Linked DNA regions of Homo sapiens. The protein of the gene in region 3 purifies or fractionates together with the protein of the main gene of each other region. This does not show direct contact. Each region holds a gene or a part of one and is shown on either strand. Other genes may lie near its edges. The genes, in order: NCS1, POGLUT2, MAP3K11 and NCALD.

What was found.
Region 1: the proteins of MAP3K11 (region 3) and NCS1 purify together in Homo sapiens (affinity purification with mass spectrometry, with the first as the bait; one large-scale study listed by BioGRID). This does not show direct contact.
Region 2: the proteins of MAP3K11 (region 3) and POGLUT2 purify together in Homo sapiens (affinity purification with mass spectrometry, with the first as the bait; one large-scale study listed by BioGRID). This does not show direct contact.
Region 4: the proteins of MAP3K11 (region 3) and NCALD purify together in Homo sapiens (affinity purification with mass spectrometry, with the first as the bait; one large-scale study listed by BioGRID). This does not show direct contact.

What each region holds. Positions count from the first base shown.
Region 1 is NC_000009.12:130,217,205-130,221,477, forward strand, and holds part of NCS1 (neuronal calcium sensor 1), read left to right. Parts: intron 1-627; coding exon 628-766; intron 767-2,520; coding exon 2,521-2,599; intron 2,600-4,273. UniProt on the Homo sapiens protein: Neuronal calcium sensor, regulator of G protein-coupled receptor phosphorylation in a calcium dependent manner. Directly regulates GRK1 (RHOK), but not GRK2 to GRK5. Can substitute for calmodulin. Stimulates PI4KB kinase activity.
Region 2 is NC_000013.11:102,783,520-102,786,890, reverse strand, and holds the end of POGLUT2 (protein O-glucosyltransferase 2 isoform 1 precursor), read left to right. Parts: intron 1-551; coding exon 552-659; intron 660-2,378; coding exon 2,379-2,396; 3' UTR 2,397-2,610; downstream 2,611-3,371. UniProt on the Homo sapiens protein: Protein glucosyltransferase that catalyzes the transfer of glucose from UDP-glucose to a serine residue within the consensus sequence peptide C-X-N-T-X-G-S-F-X-C. Can also catalyze the transfer of xylose from UDP-xylose but less efficiently.
Region 3 is NC_000011.10:65,600,722-65,604,976, forward strand, and holds part of MAP3K11 (mitogen-activated protein kinase kinase kinase 11), read right to left. Parts: intron 1-4,255. UniProt on the Homo sapiens protein: Activates the JUN N-terminal pathway. Required for serum-stimulated cell proliferation and for mitogen and cytokine activation of MAPK14 (p38), MAPK3 (ERK) and MAPK8 (JNK1) through phosphorylation and activation of MAP2K4/MKK4 and MAP2K7/MKK7.
Region 4 is NC_000008.11:101,692,902-101,697,174, reverse strand, and holds part of NCALD (neurocalcin-delta), read left to right. Parts: intron 1-4,273. UniProt on the Homo sapiens protein: May be involved in the calcium-dependent regulation of rhodopsin phosphorylation. Binds three calcium ions.

The DNA.
Region 1 (4,273 bases), on a different chromosome or scaffold from region 3:
GCGTCAGCCACGTAGGGATCTGGAGGGTTTTGTGCTGGGCACTGGGACTGCAGGGTGGACAAGTCCAGTTGGAACAGCCAGGATCCCCCCATGCTGTTTACCCAGTTCCCTGGGAACAGAGACTGAGGGGCAGGGTGTGGGCATGTGGGAGGAGCCACCTGCTGGCTCCATATGGTGGTCTACCCACCAGCACCAGCAGCAGCCCACCCAGCCTGATGCCAGGAGGGGCTCAGCAGAGAAGGTGGGGAGGTGGGAGGGTCTTGTGCAGGCATGCGGCTTTGGGGAGGCCATTCATGTGACTCTTGTTTTAGCCCCCTTGGGTGGAGCACAGGGCTGGGTGGCCAAGTGCTCACTCTGTGTGCAGTATCTGGGTTAATTCCTATGTCAGTTCGTAACCCCCTTATGCAGACGAGGCTAGGAGAGGTGAAGTCTGTATCCAAGGTCACACTGCTAGTGAGAGGCAGAGGTGGGACTGCGCCTGTGCCTATCAAGTCCATGGCCCCATGGGGCACCATCTCTTTGAACAAGGAGCCACAGCTTTCCTGGGCCCCGGGCAGGCGATGTTGGTGGTGGGTGGGTGATGTTGGCGTCTCCTTTACCCTCTCTGGCCCGGTCTGCTGCCTCCAGGTACAAAGGCTTCATCAAGGACTGCCCCAGTGGGCAGCTGGATGCGGCAGGCTTCCAGAAGATCTACAAGCAATTCTTCCCGTTCGGAGACCCCACCAAGTTTGCCACATTTGTTTTCAACGTCTTTGATGAAAACAAGGTGAGCTGGGGATTGATGGGGCCTGCGGCAGCTGGCTCAGCTCCTGTGGGTACCCGCAGCGTCTCCACACCCACTCTCTCCTGCCGATGTTCCCTTCTAGAGAAGGAACACACACACGAGTGCATACTGACATGCACAGATACATAGTCGCACATAAATGCATGCACATGTACACATGCAGACACACAATAAACACAGATGCATCCAAATGCATGCACATGTGTGCACACATATGTACACCCACACATGTACTGACATGCACATCCAAGCTCTCACACAGACGTGTATGTGCACATGCAGGCGAATACCATGCACACATGTGGGCACACATACATGGAGATGCAGCCACACACGTGAACATACATGTATATTCATACAGTGCACAGAAATGCACACATATGCACACAATGCATGGACTTGCAGGTGCACACACGTGTACACACAGAGAGACATATACACATATGCATATGTATACAGTGCACAACACACATGCATGTATACACATGTACACCCTGACACTTCTCTTACAAGCATAAAATGCAAATACCTCCCATGATAATAACAGGATTAATAATAATAACCAATATTTCCTGAACATTTACTATGTTTAAGCTCTTTACATGGATTTTTTTTTTTTTTGAGACAGAGTCTTGCTCTGTTGCCGAGGCTGGAGTGCAGTGGTGCAGTCTCAATTCACTGCAACCTCTGCCTCCCAGATTCAAGCAATTCCCCTGCCTCAGCCTCCTGAGAAGCTGGGATTACAGGCGCCGTCACCACACCTGGCTAATTTTTGTATTTTTAGTAGAGATGGGGTTTCACCGTATTGCCCAGGCTGGTCTTGAACTCCTGACCTCAGATGATCCACCCACCTTGGTCTCCCAAAGTGCTGGGATTTCAGGTGTAAGCCCCCTTGCCCGGCCATACATGGATTATTTTTAATGAGGCCTTACAAGCACCTGGGAGCTGGGTATTTTAATACCCATTTTGTAGGTCAGGAAACTGAGGCTCTGAGAATCGTAGGCTATAGGATCTTTTGTTCCTGGCGTTTTCCACTGAGCATCATGTTTTCAAGACTTACCATGTGGTAGCTTGTGTCACCTCCGGGCAGTGGCTGCACGGATAGCTGTTGGGTTATCTGCGATGACCCTGATTCTGTCCTGCAGTAGCATTTGAGGGTGGATTTACTGCCACTTGTCTCTGTACCCCCTGCTGCTGGCACCGTGGAGGTTTCTATTCTATCCCATCCCCAGCTTCTCCCAGGTGCCCCCAGGCTGGGAGTCACATGCCTGACCCTGGGAAGGGCTCTTCCCTTCTTGGGCCTCGGTTTCTTCATTTGCAAATAAGAGGTGGAATTAAACAACCTGCAGCGGCCTTTCCTCTGCAAAAGCCCATGAGCCCACAGCTCTAGGCCGAGGGGCTTCCGGGCTGTTGCTGAGAGGAGCTCAGGCATTGGTGCTTCTGGCACCTTCTCCCATCAAGAGTGGAGTAAGCCTCTCCGTTCAGCCTCAGTCCTTCTTCCTGTGCCTCCCTCCTGGCCTCTCCCACTTCTAACCCCCCACACAGTCCCCCAGCCTCTGCTCCCCACCCTCTCCTTGCCTCTCGCCCCCCATTCCTTCGAGCCTGCCCTCTCCACCTGAGTGTCCATTGGCCACAGTGTCTGGAGCCTGCGACTGCCCCTCGCCCGTCCCGAGGTTCAGCCTGACCCGGTGGCCTGGCCGGCACTGACTGAGGCAATCCCCTCTCTCTCCTGTCAGGACGGGCGAATTGAGTTCTCCGAGTTCATCCAGGCGCTGTCGGTGACCTCACGGGGAACCCTGGATGAGAAGCTACGGTGTAAGTCCTGCCCCCTTGGCCCTGTGTGGCAGCAGCTGGAGGGCCCAGGTCAGAGGGAGGCAGCCCTCGGCCCTCACCAGGCAGGGGTGCCAGACACCCACTGCAGTGACCACAGATGGCGTCCCAGCTGTGTCTGCAGAGGGCAGGCCTGGGCCCTGGGCAGGTGGCCCTCACACGGCCACGTAACTAGGCCAGGCTGACTGTCCAGGGTTCAGAGAGCAGCGCAGACATCTGTGCTTCCAGGTGGGAGGGTTTCCTGGAGGCACCGGCAGCAGGAAGGAGCTCGCTGAGGCAGGTGGACAGGGAGGGCTGGGGGCAGAGGCTGGCAGGAGCCTTGGCTGCACTCGGGCAGGTGCAGACTTGGGCCGCAGGAGGGTCGGTGGGGACCCAAGACCCAGGTTCAGTGCCGGACCCACCTCTTTCATAGCCATTGCTTTGATTCTTGCTTTCAGTCATTCACTTACTCACTCATTCATTGACCAAATAACGACTGAATGCAGCCACGTGTTGGTACCAGGGATCCACTGGGGGATAAGATAGATGGGTCCCTGCTCTCAGGGCGATCAGTCTAGAGTGGCAGCAGGATTTAAAAAAAAACCTCAGGAAACTGCAGGCAAGGAGGAGAGAGGGAGTTGTGAGCAGGAGAGGACCTGCCTGGTAGGCGCAGAGCTGGGGATGAGAGGAGCTGGGGATGAGAGGAGCTGGGGAGGGGGCGTTAAGGGCTCCAGCCAGGGGGCCCGCGTGTGCGAGGCCCAGTGGAGGGAGGCTGAGAGGGAGTTGGGAGGGGAAGCTGTGCAGGCCCCTGGCGGCATTAGGAGGAATGCAGGGTGCGTGGAGGGGAGGGAAGATGGAAACCAGCTGGCCAGAACTCCCTGCTCAGTAAGACTTTCACACTTCAGTCCATCGGCAGCAAGAAGACCCTGCAGTTTCTTTTTCTTTTTCTTTCTTTCTTTTTTTTTTTTTTAAGAAATAAAAGAGAACTTTATTTATGCAAAAGCTCCTCCTCTCAATGCACTATTTTATTTTCTAATGTTGACTGTAGCAGGCCACACCATAATTGTGGGAGCAGAGTGGACTGTGGGGAGGAGGTGGGGGCTGGAGTTGGGGGAAGGAGAGGGGTGCTCCTCTGGGTAACATCCCAGGCCCCGGGCTCTCCCACGCACTCAGCTCCAGCCACTGATACCTCGGCCCTGGCAGCCCAATGCCCCATCCCTTTATTTTATTTGTTTATTTATTTATAGACAGAGTCTCGCTCTGTTGCTCAGGCTGGAGTGCAGTGGCACAATCTCGGCCCACTACAATCTCTGCCTCCTGGGTTCAAGCAATTCTCCTGCTTCAGCCTCCCAAGTAGCTGGGATTACAGGCATGTGCCACCACACCTGGCTAATTTTTGTGTTTTTAGTAGAAATGGGGTTTCGCCATGTTGGCCAGGCTGGTCTCGAACTCCTGACCTCAGATGATCCACCCACCTTGGCCTTCCAAAGTGCTGGAATTACAGGTGTGAGCCACCGTGCCTGGCCCTGTTATTTTTAATATATATATATATAAAATATTTAATATATATATAAAATATCATATATATATATATATATATATATATATATATATATAGAGAGAGAGAGAGAGAGAGAGAGAGAGAGAGAGAGAGAAAGAGAGAGTCTTGCTCTGTCACCC
Region 2 (3,371 bases), on a different chromosome or scaffold from region 3:
CCTCCCGATTTTGTAACCTTCCCTTGATAGAGGGAAGCAGAGGACAAACCGTGTAAAATGAATAAACTGGGGGGATTTACCATGTGAATTTCTAAGGATCCATGGGGCAGTGTTCATTCATTTAGCATAGGTACTTAGCACAGTGCTTCACTCAGAGTAAGCACATGATAAATGAAGATGATGATGGAGGCTTGTGCAAGCCATGATAAGGAAAGCAGAATAGTCTCTGTCTTCACATTCTCAGTCTAGGGAAGATTGTGTGCAAAATTATTTTTACTGTGAGGCAGAAGACGGTTAAAAAAAAAAGTCATGGAAATTTAGGATAGCATAAAGAGGTGTCTGTTAGGAATAGGCAGCCAGTGTTCAAAGGATGGCCTCCTCTCAGATGCTCTACTGTTGATGTTCAGAACTGGTATATATGACGGACTATGCAGATCACAGTTTGACACACATGAGTTAAATGAATCATAGTCTTCATATATTCTAGCCTCTCTCATTGGGTGGATATAAAGTGTTTTATAAGGAATGCTTTTATATTGTTGCTTAAACAGGAATATGCCAATTTACAAGTGAGTGAGCCCCAAATCCGAGAGGGCATGAAAAGGGTAGAACCACAGACTGAGGACGACCTCTTCCCTTGTACTTGCCATAGGAAAAAGGTAACCAGAACTGAGCTTATGGCCGGTGTCAGAGTAAAAACTAACATTGATCCAAACTTGCTTTTATTCCTATAGTCATTCAATCAGGCAGCAAATATTTGAGTTCCTCTCGAGGTCTCCAAGCAATTCAGTCTGCCAGAGAGATAGGTATAAAAGATAGCAGTGCTCAAGAAAGGATGCTACAATGCAGTTAATTGAGAAGACATGGTAGCTCCCTGGCAAAGTGGGGGGAAGTCTTTTATAATGTGAGAATCCAGCTCACACCCTATTTGAATGGATGCTTACAGTCTGAAAAATATTTTCATGTGTATCATCTGATGCCCTCATCTCCTCATGAGATAAGTTTGGCAAAGTTCATCATCCCAGTTTAGAGAAGGAAAAATATGTAACCACGATTATTAATGTTTTCCAATTCTTCATTTGAAAGTCATCTCAGTTGATACCACTACATAAGGATCTCATTGATAAAAATGAAAGTCAGATTCACATCTGGACTTTTAAGGTAGAAAGGACCTTAGAAGTCATCCAGTAAATGCCTTCATTTTATGGTTAACAAAACTGAGCCCAAAAAGGAATTGTGCTCAAAATCATCTAGCTGGATTATAGCAAAGCAAAAACCAATCTCTCATCATCAGATTGTGATTGTGTGTGCTTGTATATAAAGCTATAGTGTGGCAGGGGACTGTTGCTTTGATTATGATTTTTGTTTGTTTGAAGGAATGTAAATTGCATAAACTAGAGTGTGTGTGTGTGTGTGTGTGTGTGTGTGTGTGTGTGTGTAACATATGCTGACTTAACATTTTAGGCAACATAATTAGGTTTCTGAATGGACAAGTTCAAAATTGTGGTATTATAACCAAAGACAAGAAGGCAGATTTGGCAATTATTATGTCTACCTCTCAAGGAGGTGTAAAAGGAATTAAGGTGAGGCTGGCCCCAGTGATGTGACAGAACCAGCTTATATGAGCTCACTGATAAATATTCAGGAATTTTGCATACTAGTTAAATTTTTGGTAGCTTGGAATCATCCTGATAGGAGTATTTACACCATGACAATCAGCACATGCTACAAATCAGAATTTTGGCTGTTTTATTTTTGTCTTTGTTTTTTATAGAACTCATTAACCACTAACCAACTGGCCCTCAGAGGTGGTTCGTCATCATTGTGAACTCTGTCAGTGCTCCAAGGCCATAAAAATCAGTTAAAACCAATGATAAAACAAGAATTGCCAAATCGAAAGGTTCCCCCTCACCAATCCGTGATTTGGTATCAGAACACTTCTCACTTTGGCTCTAAGTGAGACTGGCAGCTTCCTTGCTCCACTCCTGCTCAGTTATTTATCTTCATCTACGTGATTGAGAGGAGGTACCCAGCCAGTTTCTTCCACTGAGTAGTAGAAGTTAGGGGCCAGAATGATAGCTTCGTTTATTTTTTGCTCATTGTCTATCCTAGTCTTTCACCACTACTGTTCATAACATGAGGCCTTTACAGTAGTACAGCCCATGGATGTTTGGGTTCCTTATCAGTAGGCTATGAAACACAATGTGATTTTACCCTTAGCTGACTCTGGGCCTCTGGAAATAGTCCCAAGCCCTAAAAGCCTCTAGCAGCAGCTTGGCTCCCTCTCATCTTTACAGGAAAATAATTAACGAATGTAAGTCTTCTTCACTTGTGTAAGACTTCTTGATAGCTCTAAATATTTTGCTTCTTAATTGCAGACCAAAGATGAACTCTGATATGCAAAATAACTTCTATTAGAATAATGGTGCTCTGAAGACTCTTCTTAACTAAAAAGAAGAATTTTTTTAAGTATTAATTCCATGGACAATATAAAATCTGTGTGATTGTTTGCAGTATGAAGACACATTTCTACTTATGCAGTATTCTCATGACTGTACTTTAAAGTACATTTTTAGAATTTTATAATAAAACCACCTTTATTTTAAAGGACTACGTTGTGCTAATTATTAGCCGTGTTTGGAACAGAGAGCAGTAAAAACAGAGAGAATCTGGGTCCTTAATGCACAGCAGCCCAGACCACCTGCCCAGACTGGTTTTAAATGACAAAGCAATGAACCCCTGTCTCCTTTTAAGCCCATATTATTGTGGGTATTCAGCCAAACTTAATTCTAGCTAATACTTCGTACAAGGCCAGTCATTAGATGGCCTCTACCTGCATCTTTAGTCAAATCTCTCAGCACTTTCTAGTATCAATACTGTCCTCTGGAAGAACGAGTCCTCTCCCAGTTCTGTCAATGCCTGTGTCCTTACCTTCCTGGCTCTTGCCTTTCCCTTGTCCTGGAATGTCTTGGCCCTCTTTTCTTCAACCGGCTTACACATCCTTCAGCACATATTTTATCCTTACTAGATTTTAAGTGCCATGACCTCAGAGACCAGGCCTTTCTTCTGGGTAGTCCTAACGTCTAATAGAGTGCCAGCAACTAGAAAGACTGAATAAATATCTAATGGGTGATATGGTTTTGATGTTTGTCCCTTCCAAATCTTATGTTGAAATGTAATTCTGAGTGGTGGAGGTGGGGCCCGGTGGGAGATGTTTGTATCTTAGGGGTGGATCCCTCATGAATGGCCTGGCACCATCCTTGCAGTGACAAGTGAGTTCTCACTGTGAGTTCACATGATCTGGTGGTTTTAAAAGGTGTGGCACCTCCCCCTCTCTCTGTGTTGCTCCCTCTCTTGCCACCTGATACCCT
Region 3 (4,255 bases):
GCTGTGGCTCTCCACTGTCACTAGGAGAAAGTCTGGCCTCCTTGGCTGGTCCTCTGAAGCCCTCCCTGGCCTTGTCCCTCTGCCTTTCCCCTCCTGCCTGGAGTGCAGCAGCAGGTTGGATGTCGGGAGGGAGAAATACAAGGCTGGGAAAAATGAGCTTCTACTATGAACCAGGACTTAGCTCACAGTCCCTTCTGTCAGCCCCAACCCTTACTCAGACTCTCTGCCTCTTACCTCACCCAACTCCCACCCCGGCCACTGCCACTGAAGGGACAAGGGAATCCTTCTAAAATGCAAACCTGTTAAAGACAGGTCTCTGCTTAAAAACTACCCATCACTTCCAGCTTCATTCACTCATTCATTCAATCAACATCTACTGACCCATGTGCCTTGGCCCCTGTCCGCAGCCCCAGTCCTGAGACTCCTCGGCTCTCAACTCTTCTCGGAGTTCAGCCAGGTTGCCTTTTCCTTGGGTATGGTGAGCTGCATGCCTGCGCACACACTATTCACTCTGGGTGGCTGACCTTTCCCACCTTGGCTTTCAGTGACCTCTTATGCACCATCCAAGACCAACTGGGATGTCACTTCCTCTGTGAAGCCCTCCCAGAATCTCCCTGAACCTACACAGTTATTGCTCACGTTATGCCTCATAGAGGTGCTACTGGACTTGTTTATGAGTCTGCCTGCTTCATCATATGAGGTCAGGGCAGTGTTTAACATGTTGATGCCTGGCTCTTAAAATGCAAATCCCTGGGCCAGGCGCGGTGGCTCACATCTGCAATCCCAGCACTTTGGGAGGCCCAGGTGGGATGATCACGAGGTCAGGAGATCGAGACCATCCTGGCTAACACGGTGAAACCCTGTCTCTACTAAAAACACAAAAAATTAGCCAGGCGTGGTGGTGGGCGCCTGTAGTCCCAGATACTCAAGAGGCTGAGGCAGGAGAATGGCATGAACCCAGGAGGCGGAGCTTGCAGTGAGCCAAAATCACACCACTGCACTCCAGCCTGGGCAACAGAGCGAGACTCCGTCTCAAAAAAAAAAAAAAGCAAATTCTTGTTTGATGAAGAATCCATTTTTATAATCCTTGCACCAACCACGAGGTTATCATATCACCCCCACTTCGCAGGTGAAGAACTGATCATTTACAGTGAGTTTAAACAGAAGAGGGGAAATCATGTTTAAAAAAAAGAAAGAGTTGGCCGGGTGCGGTGGCTCACACCTGTAATCCCAGCACTTTGGGAGGCCAAGGTGGGCGGATCACGAGGTCAAGAAATCGAGACCATCCTGGCCAACATGGTGAAACCCTGTCTCTACTAAAAAATACAAAAATTAGCAGGGCATGGTGGCACGCACCTGTAGTCTCAGCTACTTGGGAGGCTGAGGCAGGAGAATCGCTTGAACCCAGGAGGCGGAGGTTACAGTGAGCCGAGATCCCGCCACTGCGCTCCAGCCTGGGTGACAGAGTGAGACTCCATCTCAAAAAAAAAAAAAAAAAAAGCAAGAGAGGCTGGGAGTGGTGGCTCAAGCCTATAATCCCAGCACTTTGGGAGGCCAAGTAGGGCAGATCACTTGAGGTCAGGAGTGCATGACTAGCCTGGCCAACATGGTCAAACCCTGTCTCTACTAAATACAAAAATTAGGCCGGGCATGGTGGTTCACGCTTGTAATCCCAGCACTTTGGGAAGCTGAAGCAGGTGGCTCACTTGAGGTCAGGAGTTCGGGACCAGCCTGGTCAACATGGTGAAACCTCATCTCTACTACAAATACAAACATTAGCCGGGCATTGTGGCACATGCCTGTAATCCCTGCTACTTGGGAGGCTGAGGCAGGAGAATCACTTGAACCTGGGAGGTGGAGGTTGTAGTGAGCCGAGATTGCACCACTGCCCTCCAGCCTGGGCAACAGAATGACACTTCATCTCAAAAAAAAAAAAATTAGCTGGGCATGGTGGCACATGCCTGTAATCCCAGCTACTGGGGAGGCTGAGGGAGAATTGCTTGAACGTGGGAGGTGGAGGCTGAAGTGAGCTGAGGTCGCACCACTGCACTCCAGCCTGGGTGACAGAACAAGACTCCTTCTAAAAAAAAAAAAAGAAAATAGCAAGAGCAAGCTGGGTGTGGTGGCTCACACCTGTAATGCCAGCACTTTGGGAGGCTGGGGTGGGTGGACTACTTAAGCGCAGCCCAGCCTGGGCAACATGGCAAAACCCCATCTCTACAAAAAATATAAAAATTAGCCAAGCATGGCATGCACCTGTAGTCCCTGCTACTCAGGAAGCTGAGGTGGGAGGATCACTTGAGCCTGGGAGGCAGAGTTTGCAGTGAGCCATGATCATGCCATTGCAGTCCAGCCTGGGTAACAGAATGAGACTCTATCTTTAAAAAAATAAAAGACAGAAATGAGACAAAGGGAAGAGAAGATAGGGTCCAGCAGACAAAATGAGAGTGAACAGAAGTTCCTGCAGTCAATGGCCTGAGAAACTGAGGTTCTGAAGGGTAAGGGACTTGGTCAACATAATCCAGCTAGGATTTGAATCTGCCTCTAAGCTTCCTGGCAGCAAGAGTTAGCAACTCTGTTGTTTAGGAGAAAGCTGCGTGACTATTCTTGACCCAAAGATAGATAGATAGAGGCGAAACTGCTTCCGTGAGGTCTCACAGGGAGGACACAGCCACGTAGTTATTGGCTCTAAGGCAACAAGCTTCACAGGGCAGTTGCTATCAGCGTAGCTGAGTGCACCCTGCCAATGTGCCACTCCTTGCAGCCAGCTCTCCAGGGACCAGAACAGCCCACTGGGGACAGGGTGAGGGTGTGTGTGACTCTCCAGTGGTATGGCTTATGCCGGGGACCATCTCACAGGGTCTGGGACCTCTGTGAAGCCCCATTATTTGATTCTTAGCTGGGTTTCGGGGGGTGGCTGTGAGGTCAATGTCATGTACTTTCATGGACCCAGATGATGCGTGGAGTGTGGGATTGGGCTAGGGGAACCAGATGCTCAGCCAGCCACTGAGCTGGGCAGCTGACATCCTTTCAGGGCAAGTGGCAATCCATTTCTTCATCAGCCAGGAAGGGCACTGGTGTTGAGGCCGACATACTTATCAAGAACAGTAACTACCATGGTTTCCAGTGCTTTCATGAAACCTCAGACATGTGGCCTTCTGGCCACACATCTGCAATTTCATATTGTGGGAGCATTCACTGTATCCCTGGGGGCTGCGGCTCTCTCAGTTTGCAGGGGCTGGACCAAGAAAGAAGGCATTTCAGATTTCTATGGGCACAGATGTCTACAGAAGTTATGATGCCATGAAATACTTCGAGGAGATGAGGAAGGCTGCTATCTCTCAGAATGCAAAGTGATTTTGGAATATGAAGAATTTCTTTGGGTTGAATTACTTAGAAGTTTGTCACTGATCTGAACTATTCATGAATATATGGGCTAATAAGTAGTTTCTCTTCATAAATAATTAACAAATTCTTTGGATAAAAAAACATGGGGCAAGCTTGAGAACGATGGGGCCCAGGCCCCTTGTGCCCCTGCTTCTGGGAGCTGAGGGCCAGAGAGTTCTGTGGAACAGTCAGGACCTGCTTCAGCCTACACACCTGGGTTGACAGGCTCTCAAGTTCTCCTTTGGCCCATCTGGCCTGGTACAATTTAGAGCAAGTGAATTCAAGAAGCCTCCTTGGCCTTCCAGCTCTCAGTTCAGTCCCTGCAGGACAGATGCTGGGGGCAGTGCAGCTGCTGGAGTAGCAAATGGCGGGGCAGATGGAGGCCCAGGGCTCTGCCTCTGTGGTCAGACAGGCAAGAGCAGATCAAATCCCTGCTCTACTGGTTGCCTTACATCAAACCACTTAATCTCTCTGTGCCTCAGTTTTCTCTGTTGTAAAATGCAGGCCAATACTACTACTCCCCTCACAGAACTGCTTGGCACATAGAAGAGAACCAACAAAGGTTAGCTGTTGTTACAACTATCAAGTGTAGCTCAGGGAATGGAAGAGGCGATGGGCTGGGTGGGATGGGAGGAGTGAGTTTAAACGGCTTGCTGAACAGGACTCTTCTGAGAGCAGCTAAGCGGGTCCTACATTCTGGCTGTGAGCAGCAGGTGTGGGGGCTCTGAGGATGGTCCCTAGGTTGGCACAGGGACCCACAGGCAAGGGAGGCCATAACTCTCTGGCCTCACTCAGAGCTGGGCAGTGTTGAGCTGAGTGAGCCCTCCTCCCTGCAATGCTGGAGCCCTGCCTTCTGCCTGACCCTCTG
Region 4 (4,273 bases), on a different chromosome or scaffold from region 3:
GCATAGAGATGTTTATAGTATTCTCTGATGATAGTTTATATTTCTGTGGTGTCGGTGGTGATATACCCTTTATCATTTTTTATTGTGTCTATTTGATTATTCTCTCTTTTCTTCTTTATTAGTCTAGCTAGTGGTCTATTTTGTTAATTTTTTCAAAAAAACAGCTCCTGGATTCATTGATTTTTGAAGGGTTTTTTGTGTCTCTGTTTCCTTCTGTTCTGCTCTAATCTTAGTTATTTCTTCTCTTCTGCTAGCTTTTGGATTTGTTTGCTCTTGCTTCCCTAGCTCTTTTAATTGTGATGTTAGAGTGGCGATTTGAGATCCTTCTAGCTTTCTGATGTGGGCATTTAGTGCTATAAATTTCCCTCTTAACACAGCTTTAGCTGTCTCCCAGAGATTCTGGTATGTTGCAAATGACTACTTTTCAATTCTCTGAACACCACTGACTGCAAGTAAGGAAGGGAAGAGAGGTAAATTTGGGAAATGAATGTGAATAGGAAAATCAAATTTAATGTCACTTCCATCTTTTGTTGCTCGTTGGAGAAATACAGATCCCTAAACACTGTGAGGCCTCAGTGGTCTTTCCCTGCTTGCTCTAGAGCCACATTGTGTACTGAACGCCCCCACACTCTGTTGACCTCCTTGCCACGCTCCCACTCTGGGCTTCCACATGGTGTTTTGCTCACCCCTGATTTATTTAAGCCCTATGCTTTCTTCACGTCTTTGTGCAATCATCATTCCTCAGAGAAGCCTACCCTAACCCTCCTGGCAAAACCTAACTCTCCCACTATATCATCACAGAAGCCATGCACTCTTCTTTCTAGCACTTTTCTCAACAATGGTTTTACATGTATTTCTTTATTTTACTAATGTCTGCCTTATTTCACAGCAAAAACCATGAGGGAAAGGATTAGGTCAATGTCAATACCTGGTACACATTAGTTGCTTATACATATTTGATGAATGACTGAGTGAGTGGATGGATGAAGAGGCAGTCACCTAAGAGCAGGGATTTCCATGACCTGGGGTCTATGGATCAGCTTCTAAATACCCAAACCTCTGAGATCGTCTGCAATGGTGGGTGGGTTTGCATGGTTTCTAAGGGAAAAGCTCAAATCTTTTGACAGATTAAGTCTTTAAGGGGTTTCACATGAATATGTTTAATTATGTGAAGAGAGAGAGAAGAAAAAGAAAAGAGGAAACTAAAAAAAACATATAAAAGGATAAAGGGGAACTTTATAAATTGGAGCAGTGCAGAATAAAGGTGAGAGAGGGAAAGAATGAGAGGGCAACTGGGGGACAGTTATTCCTGAATAAATTCTTTAAACTAAGTGAAGTTGACTGTATTCAAGACCCTATGTTAGGTACTATCAGGGATTCAAAAAATAGATGTGACTGCTACCCTCACATCTAAAAGGAGAACATTCTGGGTGTGAATTCAAGGTAAATGGAAGGAAGTGATATGAGAGAGGTTGGGTTGGAGCCCCTTGCTAGCACAGAGGGAGGGAGATTGCACATAGCAATAGAAGAAGGGAAGATGATGGAAGGCTTCCTGGAGGAGGGTAACATTTTGATCTGCTCTTAACACATGGGTAAGAGTCCAAGGAGGAGGGGAGATGGGGTAGGTGAGCACTCAGGTGAGAGAAGAATATAAACAAAGCTGCTGGTCCAGGACACCAAGGAGCGTATCATGTTGTCAGACTCTTGACAACAGCCTTTGTGGAGCATCTGAGCTGGGAGACACCTCCTATGGCCAGTCACAGGCACAAAGCCAGTGGCATCTAGAAGGACCACGTGAGACAAACTTACTGAGGCCAGAACAGACTTGGAGAAGGAACAATCCAGCCCCAAAGAAGATTGATAATGAATAAATACACAGCCCCCTTAAAACTTCTGGCAAAAATAAACTTATCCCTTGTCTGTAAGTGCTCTTCCCCGCAACACCTCTGCAACTCCTGAAACAGCTCCATGCGCTCTCCTTTAAGGAGGTTGTGCTAATGTGATCTGCAGGGATGCCAATTTCTAAATGTTGTGTTATTGTTGTCCTAAGATTCCTGGGCTTATGAATTCACCAAATATTTAGATCATATGAGCTTGAAATGTATGTGAGGGGTGTGCATGTTTTCATAGTTGGTGCCGATTCCATTTTGACTATGTCAAGAGTTACGAAAAGCTTCCACTGTGGGAGCAAAGCAAGCTGGGGAGAGGTTGCTAGACCTCAAGACTTTTGCTGGTGTGAAAAGACACCTGCTGTCTACTGTTACTAAATATTCACCTGGGCGTGTTAAATCTCAGGGCCTCTCTTCTCCCATTTGCAAAAACAGCTCCATCTCTCCGGCCTTTCCTAGCTCCCCCAAGAACTTACGTGTCCCCGGCAGTGAGGCACATGGCACTACAGCCCCAGCACAGTTGGTGGAGCAGACCTGGGCTGGGATGACAGCAGGCAGGGGACCATGATGAGGAGGGCAGACGATGGCTCCCCTCTTGTCTCCAGAGCACACTTCAGTGAGCATTTCTTGGGAATGAAATGGCTCAGCTTACCCCAGGGACACCCATAATCCTAGACAGCACCCTAACTCTGCGCTTTACCTCCCAGACCAAGTCGCTGCAGAGTCAGCTATGGAGTTCAGTAAGCACATTGGGTGGGTTTGAGACAGACTCAGGGAGCCTGTCCAGAAGCATCCCTGAGGGATGGGATCAGCCTAAGGGCCAGCACACTGGGTGAGTCTGTTTTCATTCTTATTTTGACTGAGATTAGAGTACTTACCCTACCTTATCCAGAACATGTTAGGAACTTCTGGCAGGGTTGGTCCTGAGCAAGACTGTAAAGCAGCTCAGGTGAAGCTTCAGTGTCTTTTTCTGCTCTCACCTTTCCCATTTGGAGGCGACTCCCCTCAGCTGCTTTCCTTTCTCTGTCCTCTGCACCTGCCTTGCTGCCCCTAGAGCTCCAGAACTCTCTGAAATTTTCTGCCTACTCCCTGGCAAAATCTATTTTTTCTAAAAATTGTCCCCAGGGCCAAGATGCCCAAAGTGACTCTGATTAGCAAAGTCATGATCTGGGGATAAAAACAATGACTTTTCATTCCTCTTCCCAAATAAAAACTACCTTTGACCACAGAGGTCAAAGGGCCCTTACTGAGTCCCATGTGGAGGTCACAGGCATGGGGTGATAGTTTCAGTAGTGCTTACAAAACTCCACAGAATCCTCTTTCGCCCATCAGATCTCATAGCTGTACCCAGTTTAGCTCAGGCCTGAGGATGCATAATAATTCAGAGCTCTGATGGCAGGTGGTTTCCATCTCAGGACTGCCTGGAAGCTTGCTGAGAAGGAACTTGAGACCATTGTCACACACAGGGAGAAAAGCACTGGAATGGACTAGAAGTCTGCCTGGGGAAACATGTGGCATGCACTTACAGAGTGTTACATGTCTGTCATCCTTGAGGAGTCATTGTGGACTCTCAAGGGTCCATGATAGGCATCCACTTGCCTCTCTAGCCTGAAGAATGTCATCTGCAGCCTTGCTCCTCAAAGTGGGAACCTTGCTTTTCAAAGCAGCGTCTTCAGAACAGCAGCATCAGCATCACACCGGAGCTTATTAAAAATACAGACTCTCAGCCCCACCCCTTTCCCCCACACTACCCAATCAGATTCTGCATTTTAACAAGATTCCCAGGGGATTTGTATGCACATAAACAATGGAGACGGCTAGGAGAGGTGGCGCATGTCTGTAATCCCAGCACTTTGGGAGGCTGAGGGAGGAGAAGCTTGAGCCCAGGAGTTCGAGACCAGCTTGGGCAACATAATGAGACCTTGTCTGTACAGAAAAAAAAAAAAAAAAAAAAAAAAAAAAAAAAACGCCCTGTGTGGTGGGGAGTACCTCTAGTCCCAGCTGCTGCTCAGGAGACTGAGGTGGGAGGATTGCTTGAGCCTATGAAATGGAGCCTGCAGTGAGCCGTAAGCGTGCCACTACACTCCAGCCTGGGTGACAGAATGAGACCCTGTCTCAAAAAACAATCAAAAAACATTGGAGACACAGGGGTCTACTGGGTCTTCCTGCTGGTTGTCCCTCCTGAAGGTCCTCACTGGAGGAGAACAAGCTTTGTGGGCCCGGCTTCTTCTACCTGTGCCTCCACATCTTATACCAATCAATAGGGGTAGGACTAGGTCCAATGCGGATGGGGACATTCCCTTCAGCCCGCATTTGGGAGGTTTAATGATAGGTCTATTGTGTGCCATACTGTTTTTCTGTCTTACCACCATGTCGCTTCTGTC